Regions from separate parts of the Homo sapiens genome. Here region 1 is linked to region 2. Evidence: fine-mapped QTL for protein levels in blood plasma. A gene starts in region 2. The other region holds a variant in brackets. All regions are shown on one strand. Distances are between the middles of the regions. Region 1 overlaps GXYLT1 (glucoside xylosyltransferase 1). Region 2 holds the start of GXYLT1 (glucoside xylosyltransferase 1).

Region 1 (8,339 bases), 19 kb before region 2:
AGTTACAGGGAAGCAGTCATTCAAATAATGTTGGCCCCAATTGAATGGCGGAATCTTGCCAGGGTCTACAAAAATCTTTCTTTCGGTCACAATATGAACAAAAGAAAAGTCCATCTGGATTTAAAGAAATGTAATAGAAGAGGAGATTTTAAAGTCAAGCCTATTTTTCTACAGATATACAATTAGAAGAAATTCGTCAGATGATTCAAAGATAATATCTGAGGGTTCCCATGGTTAAAGCTGGCATAACCTGAGTATGAAAAGTATGACAGTAATGAATGATAGTGTATTAAATTTACAAAGTGAACCCTGGCCGGGCACGGTGGCTCACACCTGTAATCCCAGCACTTTGGGAGGCCGAGGTGGGTGAATCATTTGAGGTCAAGAGTTTGAGACCAGGCTGGCCAACATGGCGAAACCCCGTCTCTATTAAAAATACAATAATTAGCCGGGCATGGTGGCACACACCTGTAGTCCCAGCTATTCGAGAGGCTGAGACAGGAGAATTGCATGAACCCAGGAGGCAGAGGTTACAGTGAGCTGGAATCATGCCATTGCACTACAGTCTGGGCAACAGAGCGAGACTCTTTCAAAAAAATAAATAAAAAGTGAACACATCGTCAAAAAATGATATTAAATAAAGGGGTAAGAAGAGGGAACTCTTCTTTTTTTAAAGATGAATACCAACCAATAAATGCAGAAGAAATGAGAGAATTATAAAATTCACTATTTTGCAATCACCATTGTAACAGATAATCTGGACAAAAATAATCAGTGGATGCTAAAACTACGTACTAACAAAATATTTCCCCCATATATTATAAAGGAGATAAAAGCACTGTTACAGTGTAGAAATGCAAGAACATCACCTTAACCATGTGATCAAACTTAATAATATTAAAACTTAAGGCATCAAATGTCTCCTGATAGCATGCCCAAAGAAGAACACAATATCCCATGCAGTAATCCTGCCAAAAATCCTGAATCTAATAATAAGTAGACAGTCGGCAAATCAAAATTAAGGGACATTCTGCAAAACAAAAACAAAAATATCACAAAAGATACCAATAACAGCACCCCTTTTCACCCCAAAAAAGGCTGGGGAACAGTTCTAGAATAAAGGAGACTAACTCAACCTGAGTTGAATGCAATGTATGGTCCTTGACTGGGTCCTGAATGGGGAGGAAAAGATACAAAGGACATTAACAGGAAAATAAGAAAATAGGAATAGGAATATATATTCTATAAAGTGTTAAATAACTTAAAGTGACAATTATGGCTGTATTAAAGTATGTCCCTGTTCTTAGGAGATACATGCTGAATCTATGTATTTAGGGGTGTGTCCTAATGCCTGCTGTCTCTCAAATGGTTTGGCAGAAAAAGAAAAGTGGTAAAATGTTAATAATAAATATCTAGGTAAAAAATGTATGGTATGCTTACTGTACTATTCTTGTAACCTTTGCATATTTGAAATTTATCAAAGTAAAAATTTAGGAGGTAGGGGTTTATCATAAAAAAAGAATGCTTTACATAACAAATTTAGATGCAAATACTGTTAATAAACTTCTAAGTCTTAAGAATTGACTTCTTATTTTAAGTAAATTTCTGCTATAAAGGAATCATAATAACTTTTTTGATTTTGTTTTATTTCACAGTATGATCTCCAGTGTGTTCTTATAGCCTATTATTAAATTAGTATTCCCTATTTAAAGAGATACATAATTAGACTACAAACTACCATTGAAGTATATAAAGTCAAATTAAACAATTAAATTTCAAATAACCATCTACTAAAACTAAAAAAGAACTGCCATGAAGCTATCTTTAAAAACTTGCAGTTGAACAAAATGGAAAGCTTTTTTGCTTAACCTGTTATGCTTAAAAAGAAAAACAACACCTTTTTCTCTTACTATTAAAAGAGTTGTTCCCAGCAACACATAATGGACTAAAAGAAAGAAAAAAAAAAAAGAGTTGTGCTAAATTATCATACCAGGCAAAATTACTTTCATGAGTTACATATAAAACACTTTCAAAACAAAATACTTAAAAAAAAAAGCTAGGATTTTTATATAAAGCATTAAAAAAATCTAAAAATCCAACATGAAATATAAGTATTAACTTCTAAAATATAATTTTAAATAACCAGTGAAAATATATCTCTTAAAACTGGTATGAACTACTCAAAATAATACAGCTAATATTAAATTCACCTATGACCACAGAATTCACAAATCTAAAATCAATTCCCACCATAAAGAAGATTCAATATTTTAAAGAACTGATTTTTTTAAAAACTAAAGTCATAGAAAAATTAGTACATTAAAACAAAATATTTCTGATATTTTGATAATTCTAAAATTTAGAGTTTGTATAATGAAAGTAAAATAAAAAAACAAATTAGAAACTTATTTGCAATCAATGGCAAAACCGAACATATTATTCTAAGAGTTCATAAAATAAACATTAAAAATTCAATAGATAACTATCAATATCAAATAGATGATATACAGAACAAAAGAAAAAAGCTAACTAAATGTGGAAATACATTCAACAAATAATCAACAAAAAGCTATCATTTTAATAAGTGATAAAATTATAATTCCCAATAATGCTAAGGTTATGATGACCCCAAGTACACTCACACAATGCTGGTGCAGGCTTACAGCCATATAATTTTTAAAACACAATTTAGTGATATAATTCATTCTTTTTAAAAAATATTTGAACTCCTTTCATATGGGCACTGGGGTAGGCAAGAAAGCCACAATCTTCACCTTATACAATTTGTAGCCTGTTGTGAAAAGACTGATTTTTAAAAGAATAAGAAAGCATGGTAATTGTTTTAATAGAAAAAAACTGAGATTGCTAAAGAGGCTCACAACGCAAACATCTAACCTGGTATTGGGGAAAGCTTCCCAGACAAATGATCCTGTTAATCATTTGTTTCTCACTGGTTGCCAAACACCTTGCTAGGCATGAGACTTAAATGATAACACCATATGGTATCAGCCTGCAGAGTTAACGGTCTAGAAGTGGATGAAGATTCACAGTCACAACAAATGCGGTAAATACAATAACCAAGAGGAGACAGAGAAGGGAGATGAAGTGAGCAGTGAGAGGAGACTATAATTGTTTGGGAAATGATGAGTACAACGGTTAAGGGAGAAGGAAGGAAGCAAGCAGCCAGGAGCAACAGTGTGAAAGGAGACAAGAAGAGTTAATGTAGACTGACATGTGGAGAAAGTCCGTTGTAAACATGATACAAAACACAGATGAAGGAAAGTCTGAGGAGCTAGAGCATGAGTTCAGGTTTGAACATGAGTCTCTGAGGCATTTGAATCAGAAAGGTAAAAATGACCAATATGCAACTAGAAATACAGGTCTGGCTCTCAGAAAAGAACTCTGAATTGGAGCTATCAGTTAAACAAATTATCCTGTGACTATTCAGGGAATGGGGAGAGAAAAGAGCAGAGTCCTAAGAAATGCAGATCATTTAGAAAGCAGCGTTAGAGGAGTCCAGGAGGAGAGAGATCAAAGAGCTGAGTAACTGGTCTGGTCTCAAAAGCCAGAGGCTAACAGAGCTGACAGAAAAAGGAAGTAGTAAACAGTGTCAAATGGGTAAGAGAAATAAAATTAAGCCCCAGAACAATAATTCAGAGGTGGGGTGATGACAGTAAGAGTCAGGTGGCAGACAGCTGAGGTGTGAAGTTCTTTTTATTAAAAGAAGTAAAACCAAGGCTGAGCACAGTAGCTCATGCCTGTAATCCCAGCACTTTGGGAAGCCAAGGCAGCAGGATCACTTGAGCTCAGTTGTTCATGACCAGCCTGGGCAACATAGCGAGACAGCGAGACCTTGTCTTCACTAATATTAAAAAAAAAAATTATTTGGCTATGGTGGCATGCACCTGTAGTCCCAGCTACTTAGAGGACTCAGGCAGGAGGATCACTTGAGCCCAGGAGGTCCAGGCAGCAGTGAGCCCTGGTGGTGCTACTGCACGCCAGCCTGGGCGACAAAGTGAGACTATCTCAAA[A/G]AAACAAACAAACCAAACAAAACCCAGAAGCAAAACCAGTAGGAACTTTTTTTTTTTTTTTTTTGAGACAGAGTCTCACTCTGTCACTCAGGCTGGAGTGCAGCGGTGTGGTATTGGTTCACTGCAACCTCTCCCTCCCGGGTTCAAGCGATTCTCGTGCCTCAGTCTCCCAAGTAGCTTGAACTAAAGTTGCGCGCCACCATGCCTGGCTAATTTTTGTATTTTTAGTTGAGACGGGGTTTCACCATGTTGGCCAGGCTGGCTCTCGAACTCCTGACCTCAGGCGATCGGCACGCCTTGGCCTCCTAAAGTGCTGGGATTACAGGCGTGAGCCACACCCCTCCAGCCAGTAGGGAGGTACTCAAAAGAAGCTTGCTGATGAAGGGAAAGAGAGGATTGAAAACAAACTGTTGCAGGGATTTTTGATTTTGTTTTAAAGACATAAAGCCAGGCACAGTGGCTCATGTCTATAATTCCAGCACTTTGAGAGGCAATGGAATAGTGTGTTGCCATTGACATGAGAAATATGAAGACCATACTACACTGAAAAGTATTAAAATTTTAAGCTCAGGATTCAAGATTAGGCCGGGGGCGGTGGCTCATGCCTGTAATTCCAGTATTTTGGGAGGCCGAGGCGGCCAGATCACCTGAGCTCAGGAGTTTGAGAACAGCCTGAGCAACATGGTGAAACCCCCTCTCTACAAAAACAGCTGGGCGCAGTGGCAGATGCCTGTAGTCCCAGCTCAGGAGACTGAGGCAGGAGAATCGCTTGAGCCCAGGAGGCAGCGGTTGCAGTGAGCCAAGATCATGCCACTGCACTCCAGCCTGGGAGACAGTGAAACCCTGTCTCAAGAAAAAAAAAAAAAAAAAAATTCAAGATTAGTCTACACCAGAATCACAACTATGTAAAAGCATATGATGATATGAATGATGAAAACACTTGTAATAGGAGTTGAGGCCATTTTAGTTTTTATATTATGTTCACTGTATAATAAATTAATTGGGAGAATATGATCACCCAAATAATATTTGATCAAAGTTATACAAATAATTCAAGTTGGGAAAGTAAGGTACCCAACTAAGGGCCCCCTGGTGCCAGGCAGAATGTGACATCAAAAGTGGTAGTAAAGGGGAATTCCAAAGAAGCTTTACCAGTATTAAAGTAGATACTGAGATGGAGGGCAAGAATGATTTGGCAGTTGTATGGCATTTGGGCTTGTATGCATATTTGAAATAGGGTGATTAAATGTGAGGGAATCGTTAGTTCTAAATAAGAAACTAAGTTTGAGAAATTTTTACATAATTATATGACACAAAATGTTTGCTTTTTTTAAATGTAATAGCATGATATAATGGATGCAATATTACGGGTAGAAAGTATAACAGAGGAAAGGCATATAACTTCTGAAGTCTCAAATTTAGGTTACAGGCACAAGGCTTACAACATTATGTATCCATCCACATATGATTTATTCCACGGAATACTTGGGAGCATTAGGAAAATGAGTTAGAGGAGCCAAAACAAAAGGAATGGTAAGCAGAGAGTCCAGGATTCCGACTAGGTAAATTTCCCTGGGACACTCCTGCAGTCAGTAAGGAGGAAAGATTATTATTACTCACGCTGTAATTTACAAAAGGGTCTGGGTTGTATAAATCAGAGTATGCTGAACTTTTCAAGTTTACCCAGCTTCAAGCTAGTGGAATTATGTGGCAAGGCAAAGTGGTTCTTGTCAATACTATATTCATTTGCAAATATTCGTAAGAATGAAAACATACAAAACTTCAATTATCCAAAAGTATAACCAAACTGAAAGGTTAGATTATCTTTAAAAGTTAATTTTTAAAAGCTGGAATATTACTTGGCTCATATTAAAATTTCAATCACCCAATCTCTTCCACAGCAACAGGATATAACTAAACTATCTGATTTGAACCTATTCCCCACCAGTTCTTCATGGGATGCATACTGTATTGAGAATGCAAGAATTTACAAATATGTACAATTAATAGATACTTACAATGCAGTTCTTACAGAGAGGAGAATGGTGGTTACCAGGCACTGGAGGTGAAGGGGTGGGAGAGAGTATGTGATGGAAAGATGTTGACCAAAGAATACAATACAAACTTCCAGTCAGAAGGAATAAGTTCTCAAGATCTACTGCACAGCAAGGTGTCTACAGATAATTATGTTTATTTCAAAACTGCGAAGAGAATAGGTTTTAAATGTGCCCATTACAAAAAAAAGATAAATATGTAAGATGATAAACATGTTAATGAGCTTGATATAATCAGTCCACAATATATACAGACACCAAAACATCGCTTTATGCCCCATAAATACATAGAATTATTGTCAATTAAAAATAAATTTTTTAATTAAAAGTTTTTAAAAATGAAGTTCTTCCTATCTCAAACACTTCACCTCCTGTCCTTGAAACTAGCTAATTTCCAGATCATCATCTGGTCACTCCCTCCAAGTCTTCCCTGATGCTTTAAGATGACTCATCATAGCAACAACTTGTCACACTCTATTGTAATTTCAGGTTTACTAGTGTGAAACTCCCATCAGAACGTAAGCTCCAAAAGGATGGAGCCACAATTAACCTGACCCAAGAGTCCAGTGCTTACCACCTAGCACAGCGTGTGGCAAATATAATGAGTAGAATTAATATTTATTTTATTTGTTTTTTTGAGACAGGGTCTTGCTCTGGGCTGAAGAGCAGTGGCGTCATCACAGCTCACTGCAACCTCAACCTCCACGGCTCAAGCAATCCTCCCACCCAAGCCAGCGCATGCCACCATGCCTGGGTAATTTAAAAAAAAAATTTGTAGAGACAGGGTCTTGCTTTTGTTGCCCAGGCTGGTCTTGAACTCCCGGGCTCAAGCAATACTCCCGCCTCAGCCTCCCAAAATGCTGAGATTACAGGCGTGAGCCACCATACCCAACCTAGACTATTTAAATGAATCATAAAGACGCAGTAAATAGATACTCTTCTAAGGAATTTTACTCTTGGGAAGAGCATTTCAAACCTTTGCCCCACTCTCCTCTGCCACTGTATCAGGGAGATAGTCTGAGAGTCACTGCCTTATCGTATTCTTATCAATACCTGTTTCTTTCATTCTAGATTAGAGCAGGAAGGGACCTAAGAGGTCAGAGTACCCAATACCTTCATTATCCAGAGAAGTGAATAAAGCCGAACTAGTCAGTAACTTAAAAGGTCAATAAACATTAAAGGAAGAAGTAGCCAGGAGCTGCTCCTCCATCTGCTCCTCCATTAAATACTTATCTTTATCCTCCTATTCCCAGTATTCAATCTCTCTACTAATAACGAATATAATCCTTCTCCAGTTGTCCCCATCCACTATAGTACACAAGCTTTTAGATAAATGCCATATTTTATATATATAGATATATCTGTAAACGTCAGTAGAAGCCTATTTTTATCCTAGTTTATCACTTTATCAACTGTTACCAAAAGTTAGATCATAAATTCTCTTAAGAACAGTGGTTTGTCTTAATAACATCTAAGAAAATTTAAAGCATTTATACACAGTATGTACTAAAAAATAGCAATAACAACTACAAAATGGGAAAAATAGAAAACCCAATAAGAAAATAAATTATTTGTATAATATCATAAGAAACATTCTTACATCCTATTACAAAGGTTTTATTATCAACTATCTAACCTTATCTACACTGATCTACCAATTAAATATTAAGTGCCTACCTAAAAGCCGCTTCCCAAAAGCAGTTCATTCCACAAACATCAGAGGGCAGCATCCAATAGGGATTCCAGTAACACAGAGAGAAATCTTTACACCTAACAGAGTAAGACAGAAATAAGAGTCCTGTGTGAGTATTTTGGTTTGGAACTAACAAGGAATTTACTCAGTAACACGATAACTTACTGTTCTATTTTAAAGCAAATAAAATTATAAATCCAAATTGCTATGATAAAGATTTTGGAAAACTGATTTCTCCCTTACTTAGGGCACCATTATTTTAAATAGAACTTTAAAACCCTGAAGGTAGACTATACTATAGATTGGGAAACAGTGTTTCCGTCGGAGAGTCTCCTGATAAAATCCCCTCCTCAGATAACACAGACAAATATGTCTTCTAAAATTTTCTTCACAGGCTACACATATACCCCTAGAACAAAATCCCTTTGGGACAAACAAAATATTTGCTTATCCTCAAACATAATAAAAATGCCACCAATACTGGCAGAAAGGGAAAAGAAGATCTTTAAATGCTTTTAAATTAATCCTCAATCCAAACTACTTGTATGGTGTTTTAAACTG
Region 2 (8,339 bases):
AGGATTTTGTATTTGAGATTAGAGAATAAAACCTGCAAGAACAGAAAAACCCCATGAACAAAGTTTTGTCTTTACTGGAAAAGACTCCCCAGTCCTTAAGGTCCTTTGAGCTGCCCTGCTATCTGCAGTTTTTCCTTCATTTCAAAAACTGTATAAGCCTATAAATATGTTTTGCTTGAGATAGTTTTACTGAATTTTCATCAAAGACAACTAAGAATTCTATTACAAATTAAGTAAGGTAATCTAATGTACAGCCTGATGACTATAGTTAACAAAGTGTACAGTATACCTAAAATGTGCTAAGACAGTAGATCTTTAGTGCTTTCACCACAAAAAAAAAAACCCTATGTGAAGTGATGATATTAACTAGCTTAACTGTGATCATTTCTCAATGTATATGTATGTCAAACTATCAAGTTCTATGCCTTAAACATATAGTTTCTATTTATCAATTATACCCTACTAAAGCTAAAAAAATTTAAGTATTATCTACATTTTACAGGTGAGGAAATTAAAACACAGGCATGTGACACAATTTAGGCAAAGTCTCACAGCAACCAGAGCCAGAATACTGAGAACACGGGTTTATCTGACTACAAGACCCATGTATTTTCTGATTATTAAAATCATGGCTTCAAACAGAATACACTAACGGATAAGAGATTCCACTGAAAAACTGTTCCTTTCATTTTAAAGTTCTTACTTCAAGGACTCCAAGTCTTTTGTCGTCATGAAATTCTATACCATGAATAGTTTTTATAAGATCTGACCAATGGAACTTACTGGGTACAAACCTAGATCCCGTGTTTAAAATAAAAAGAGAGAAATAGTTATAATCTTTCAAGTAAGATGTTATCAAAAAAGGCAAAAATGCAATAATACCTAAGTACTACTGAAAAGAGGAAGCTGCTGGCTTGCCCCATAGCCCCATTGCCCACTGAGTCCACTATCTAAACTAGACCCTTATCTTTCTTTACAGAAAGAGCTCTTGTATAACACTCCAAGGATACAGTTTCTAATCCTCCTCCAACACTGATTTGCTTTGGATCTTGGCCAAATGATTTATACATGAAGAGGTTAGGGATTTCTATACCGTATCTCATGGTGGCCAAAAAAGTTAATTTTTTTTTTTTTTTTTGAGACAGGATCTTGCTCTGTCACCCAGGTTGGATTACACTGGTGCAATCATAGCTCACTGTAGCCTTGAACTCCTGGGCTCAAGTGATCCTCCCACCTTAGCCTCCCAAAGTGCTGGGATTACAGGTGTGAAACACCACATTCAGTTAATTTTTTTTTAATTTTTTTATTTTTTGTAAAGATGGGTTGTTGACGAGGCTGGTGTCAAACTCCTGGCCTCCAGCAATCAATCATCCCCACTCAGCCTCCCCAAATTCTGGGATTACAGGCGTGAGCTACCGAGCGTTGCCAAAAGTTGATTTAATTCTATGACATTTCTATAAAGATGTTATAAATGACGATATACAAAATAGAGTCCTGAGGTCTTAGTAATTTGCGTGATCTTAATCTAACCATAGAGTAAAACTTCACAATCCAACTTTTCCACGTTGTTCCCCTGCCCAAATGGTTTCTTATGCGCGCAAATGTGGTGACATGCTGTTCTTCATCACATTTTTACAAAGAGAGATAAATACACCTATAGTTCTAACTTAGATGTACGCCTCATTTAAAATAAAGAGTAATGCTACTCAAAGGACCTAAAAAAGTACAGTATTTCGGTTGACTCAATCCTGACACATAAAACTTAACGTTTCAGTAATGATTATATTGGATGTTTATTAAAACTGAGGCTATTTTCGAAAATTTCAAATAATTTTATTAAAATTAGCTGGTCAAGCAAACAAAATTTGTAAATTTCTGTCACAAAATAAAATATCTAAGACCAAGGCACTAAAAATGTGATGTTAACATCAGTCTAATTTCATTCAATATTTAATTAAAATGTTGCTTCCTTACAATTCTACCCCATATAAAAATAATTCCTTTTCCATAATTGCAAATGCTTCACAATAACATACTAGGCCATAAACAGTTTAGCTTCAACCTGTCATTTTTCACGAGCTCATTCAAGTCTTCAGTGACTGCTTTCTCCCAGGACAGACAACTGAGGGTCCTGATGTAGGAATTACCCTGACTGTAATCAAATCTCAGGGTAAAAACATGACAAGTCCGCTTTCCACGCTGCTCCTCTGCCCAAACTTTCCCCTTTCATTCTGGGAATGACCATCGACTCTCAAAATGATGTTAAACAACAGCCCACAACTGATCTATACTCCCTCTTCCGACAAACCCTATACTTCTCTATATCAAAGCAGCATTTGCCAAGTCTTGGTAGGGAGCACTTCAGGTCATTCCCAGAGAGATGCCCATACATAAGGTGGAAGTGTCCATGTTGCAAGGCAGTGCAAACGCTCAGATTTCAAGCATTCATAATGCGTTGACAGAAACATTTTTTTTCTATTTAAATCTCATGTTGATTCCCACTCTGGCAGTGATTACGTCCTAAGTCATTACGTCGCTTTTTAAATACCAATTTGTCAAGAAAGGTAACTCCATCCCATCCAACAACAGACTTGAGCACGCCAAGTATCGCTCATTTTTCTTAATTTGCTCTAAGTTTCTTAATAAACTGAGTGTTTCCAAAAGAAAATTTCACAACCCGCACAAATGCCATTTCCAAATTTAACTAACCATGGCTAATACTTAGAAGTGTAAGCGTTAACACAGGAAAATCAGCATGAGGGACAAAATACACACACATATACACTCACACACACACACACAATCCTTAAACACTGAACTAGGGCGCCAGCCTCATGTTTAAATATCTCAACTTGAACTCCACTGAAACAAGAGGAAATTCTCACTAGCCAGGCAGCAGTAAGGCTTTTGTGGACACCTCTTATTTTCAAAGAACCCTCTTTTTAAAAAGTTGAAAATTAATTTCTAACTGCTTTAAAGGGCGCATGACTGGGTCAAAAGATAAACACAGAAAGTGTAGGACACTCTCAGGCGGGAGCAGCGCAGGTTTAGCCCCGGCCGGAGGGGAAGGAGGGAAATGAGTGAGGGGTCAGAGACAGGAGGAAAGACGCGGGAGACGCGGCACCCACCGGCGAGCAGCCCGGGCTAGGCCGAGCCCGCGCCCAGCGCCCCGCGCCCGCCGCGTCCCCCACACCGGGAACTGCCCGTACCTGTCCGACACGCCGGGATGCGCTGCGGGGCCCGCGACGCCGGCGCCTCTCACGGCGCCGCGTCCGCCGCCCGCGAGCCAGGAAGCCACCGCGGCCTGCGGCTTCCCGCCACCGCCGCCCGTTCCTTCTTCCAGGGACACGGCGAGCTGGCTGAAAGCGTAAAGGAGCGAGCAGAAGCCGCAGGCCACACACAGCACCACGACGCGCAGGTAGCGCCGCATCGCCCCGGCCGCGCTCCTCCTTCGCCGCCGCCGCCGCGCCCGCCCCGACGAACTGGAGCGGAGGGAGGGGCACCGCGCAGCCGCGGGCGCAACAAGTTCCTCACCCGCAGCCGCCGCCGCCGCCTTGCGCCCGCTCCCTTCCTTCCCTCCCCGCCCACCACCTAGGCGAGCGCAGTCGCGGCTCCGGAGCCGAAGGACTACCCGCCCGGAAGCCTGGACACCGCCTCTGCCGCCGCGCGCTCAAGGGTCAGCGGCAGCGACGCAACCCCGCCCCTCCCCCGGGCGGGAGGGCTGGACGCGCCGGCGCAGTTCGCGTGGGAGGGACGCAGGGCTGGCGCGCAGAGGGTGGTGTGAGTGCGCGGAACGCGGCGCGCCTGAGGGCTATAGCTAGCGCAGGCCGACGCGCAGGTGAATGGGAGCCCTGTGGGTCTCGACCGCCGAGAGAGGGGGAGCGAAAGCCTCAGGGCTCTGGAGGCAGTTGACCTAAATTCTAATTATGGTCCTTCCACATGGTAGTTTGTGACATTGGGCAACCTAAATTCTCTGAGCATGTTTCTTCGTCCCTAAAATGGAGCTACTATCCTCATCATGGGGTGGTTGTAAAGATTAAACTGTTTAACGCTCGAAAACCGCCTAACACTTAGAAGACACTTGACTAGGCCAGTTTCCTCTCCATCCTCCCCCAGCCTCTAAGTTTCTGTGATACTATAATGTGCACGAGCCATTTTCACCCCGATAAGCTCATTGCTTCGTGTGTTTGGTATGCGGACCTTACCTCTTGCCTCCCAGCAGACAGTGAGTTCCTGTAAGGCAGGGCTCTTCCCTTTGACCTTTTTGACCTCCCTCACAACTCATTATTTTCATGTGCAAAACAATTAGTATTCTCTCCACAGAGCTTCTTTCTTCCCCAGTTCTTCTCCCTCTTCTTCTGTGTTTCCACTACGTTCATTCATTGACCATTTATAAAGCATCACTTGTGCCAAGCTCTGTGTGAGTACCTAGGGGTATAAAGAGGCCTAAGTGGAGCGTGGGTGGGACAGCGGATACTTGTAAATAAGCGCAACGCAGTGATAACAGACTTAAGATCCAGGCCTGTAAGGGTGTGGGCATACACACAAAGGAACAATCAGTTCTATCTGTGAGTATGGTCAAGAGAGACTTCATAGCAAAGGTGGCGCTAGAGTCTTGAGTCGGGTAAGGGAAGTAATTCCAGGCTGAAGGATCAATAAACAGGCTCTTGTGTAGGGAACTGTTGAGAAGTTTGATACCACCAGCTAAGTGAATGCAAGAGAGGGTATGATGAGCGATAAGCGCGTAGAAGGGGCCAGATATTTGAGTGCTTTGTTTAGCACACCAAGGAGTTTGAATTTAATCTGCAAGACATTAGTGAACCATTGAAGGGTTTTTAAATAGGGAAGTAACATGATCACAATTGCATTTTAGAGAGCAGATTCTGGCTGTAGTGTGGAGGCTGAAACAGAGAGAGGAGAGATTGGAGGCAGAAAGCAGCACCAGTGCCAAAAAGTGAGGGAAGGGATACTTAAAAATACACACACACACGAACACACATTCATGGGGAAAAATCATGCGTTTAACTGCTGAAATTGCATCTGGGGCGTTGAAAAGTTTGGCCATGAGATACAAGGTGGGGAAATGCTGCGCAAAATAGTAGCAGTCTCCATTTGGATCCTTGGCTCCCTATACCAAAAAAGTAGTGGTTCTGTGACCATGATAAAGTCACTAAACAAATTTAAGGTTCAACTTCCTCCCCTTCTTGCTTTACCTGATAAAAAATGAACATTAGCATGCTATCAAGATGTGTAAAGAGAATGAGAACATACATTTATGCATTCAATAAACATTTATTGAACATATTCTACATGCCAGACAAGGGGCTCTGATGCAGAGTATTCAGAAATAAAAGGAGTGTACTGCTCTCAAAGGGAAAACAGGCAAATAGAAACCACAAGTATACTAAATTAATACTTCCACTACACCTTACACTTCTTAGAGAAATGAAGATAAACTTAACGAAGTATCCAGAATGATAGGAAAAGCATTGATAAGAATGAAAATACCTTTTGAGAGAAAGCTGAAAGATATGGTACCAAGAAACTAGAGTAAGAGCTAGTACTCAAAAAATGTTTAATTTAAAAGATACTAACTATAACTCTTCTCTATTTCAACAAAGAAACTAAACGTAGTAATAATTAAGAATAACTCCTTGACCCACAGATGGTTAAAATAATGGAATGGCAAAAAGAGAAGGCAAGCAGTTTTCATTTCTGCAACAATTTTATGAAAAGAGCAAATCAGGAAAAATAGCCACTCATTTATTGACGTCAGGGTACTGGACCATATCATCCTTTTAGGTTCCTTCTAATCCTGTAATTTTCTGTTGAAAAATTATATAAACCATTCCAAAAATAGAAATGATTTTTCTATTACTCACACATCATCTTAACTGGCTATCTTGGAGGAGCTGTGTGCATGCTGGCATCCCCTCTAATTATTAACCGGATTTACACGTTGCATTTTGATATTCCTAAAATTAAGTTAATGAAAGCGCTTTAACATATTTGATGTCACAACAGTTAGGTGTTTCTTCCATGTACTGCGTGAAGGTATGTATTCCTAAATCTATTTTTTTCTCTCTATACCAGTCTCTTAATTCTCTAATGATAGACTGATATCCAAATTTTTAATCCATGTTGACCTTCATTCATCGTATCAAATAGGTAAATTTAGGTGGAGAAAAAGTAATTTAAAATTATCAATATTTGTTGTTTAGGAGATAGAGATCTCCATGATCTGGAAAATTCTCTGATTCAGAATTAAGCCACATCTCAATAATTTTATATTTAAAAGATTAATCTTGATTTTTCGTATAGCTCTTAGTACATCCTGGATATATAATAGGCGTTCAATTAATGGGCGTTTTCTTTTTTTTTTTTTTTTTTTGAGATGGAGTTTTGCTCTGTCACCAGGCTGGAGTGCAGTGGCACAATCTCAGCTCACTGCAACCTCCGCTTCTCGGGTTCAAGTGATTCTCCTGCCTCAGCCTCCTGAGTAGCTGGGACTACAAGCGCGTGCGTGCCACCAGGCCCGGCTAATTTTTTGTATTTTTAGTAGAGACGGGGTTTCACCATGTTGGCCAGAATAGTCTCTATCTCCTGACCTCGTGATCCACCCACCTCGGCCTCCCCGAAGTGCTGGGATTACAGCGTGAGCCACTGCGCCCGGCTCCCATTTTCATTTTTTTAAAATGTCTTCTCTAAATCAGTCTAGAGCAGATTTGGGGGCCTGCTCAGCATTTTCTTTACACTTCTACCTTAAGTACTTGATTCCTTAAAAAAAAAGACATGGAGAAAGTTAAATTCTACACCTTTTCAGAGTAAAATTCAAAAACTCTTTTTGCAGGAAAAAAAAAAAAACCTTTTTGCATGACTTCCATTTTATAAAGGTCTATGCATAATGGAATTTAATCCTTGGCTGGGCACGGTGGCTCACACCTGTAATCCCCGCACTTTGGGAGGTGGAGCTGGGAGGATTGCTTGAGGCCAGGAGATCAAAAACAGCTTGGGTAATATAATGAGACCCCTCTTTCTACAAAAAAAAAAAAAAAAAAAAAAAAAAAAAAGTTTAATTTAATCTTTATAGCATTCCTATGAAGTAGGAGATGTTATTCTATTCTAAAAAAAAAACAAAAAAAACAAAAAAAACAAAAAAAAACGAGCCTGATAGAGATGTGACCACAGATAGCAAGAAAAATTTAAAAATAAAAACAATCCCCCCCCAAAAAAAGCAAACAGCCTGAAATTCAGAAATGTTCATTTACCACATGGTTAATAATAAGATCCAAAATTCAGATAGAAATCCTCTAAGATTTCTATTTCTTGTTCTTTTCCATTACGCCATGCTATCTCACTAGGAACAAATAAGCACTAAATGGAGTGGTACAAATTCAAATTGAAAGCAAAAAGGGAACCAATGTTATATGAAAATCTTTCAGACTGATCTTAGAGTCTAAAACAACATTTACAATCAGTGAAATGCAAGTCAGATTAGTAGCAGAGCACAAAGAATCAGAAACTCAGGCTAAAAGTAAAATTCATTCTCTCCGCTAGTGGGCTTCTAGTATATTTCCCCATTTTCCACAGTCCAATTCCTAGAGACTTTGTTGGACTGGAGGAAAAGTTGGAAAATAATGTTTAGTTTGCACAAAAATCTCATTTTATGTGTTCATTCAGACCAGTAACTGTAGGGAAAGAGTCAGAGGAAGGATGAAAGAGTAAAGTGATGCTCTTCATTCTTAAAAACACGTTGCTACAGGCCACAAGAGTAGAAAAAGAAGTAGTGAAAGATTAAAAAATAAATAAATAATTTAAACTGAAAAAAGAAAAGCGGTGGAAAACTAATTAATGAGGATGCCTTAACCTCCTATATGATACCAGAATTTCGCTGACATTTCCATCTACAAGGTAGGGAAAGTGTACAGTGGGCTAGGTGGGAAAGAGAACGAGGAATATCCTCTGGATGTCCCTCTATTTCTCCCTGGTTCAAACTTCAAGAACCCTGCATACCGATTAGTAAAACAGAATATATTATTTTTAAAAAATAGTAACGGCCAGGCGCAATGGCTCATGCCTGTAATCGCAGCACTTTGGGAGGCCAAGGCAGGAAGGTCACTTGAGCTCAGGAATTCAAGATGAGCCTGAGCAACATGGTGAAAACCCGTCTCTATAAAAAATGCAAGAATTAGCTGGGCATGGTGCTGTGCATCTGTGGTCCCAGCTACTCGGGAGGCTGAAGTGGGAGGATCACTTGAGCCCAGGAGGTGGAGGTTGCAGTGAGCCAAGATCACACCACTGAATACCAGCCTGGCTGACAGAGTGAGACTCCATCTCAA

The links. PIP is the posterior inclusion probability: the model's chance that the variant is causal. Protein levels are from the aptamer-based SomaScan assay of Sun 2018.
Region 1: its variant is fine-mapped to the plasma level of the GXYLT1 protein (Sun 2018, PIP 0.95).

Annotation. Positions count from the first base shown.
Region 1 is chr12:42,121,997-42,130,335 of GRCh38, forward strand. GXYLT1 (glucoside xylosyltransferase 1) reads right to left here. Exons shown (of 8, transcript NM_173601.2): 2 at 7,763-7,855. Among named protein-coding and RNA genes, the nearest start is that of GXYLT1, 19 kb to the right of the region's middle. The variant A/G (reference allele first, on the strand shown) is at 4,032.
Region 2 is chr12:42,141,217-42,149,555 of GRCh38, forward strand. It overlaps GXYLT1 (glucoside xylosyltransferase 1), which reads right to left and starts at 3,658. Exons shown (of 8, transcript NM_173601.2): 1 at 3,210-3,658. The coding sequence starts at 3,430. RefSeq lists silencers at 3,046-3,275, 3,356-3,855 and an enhancer at 4,016-4,085.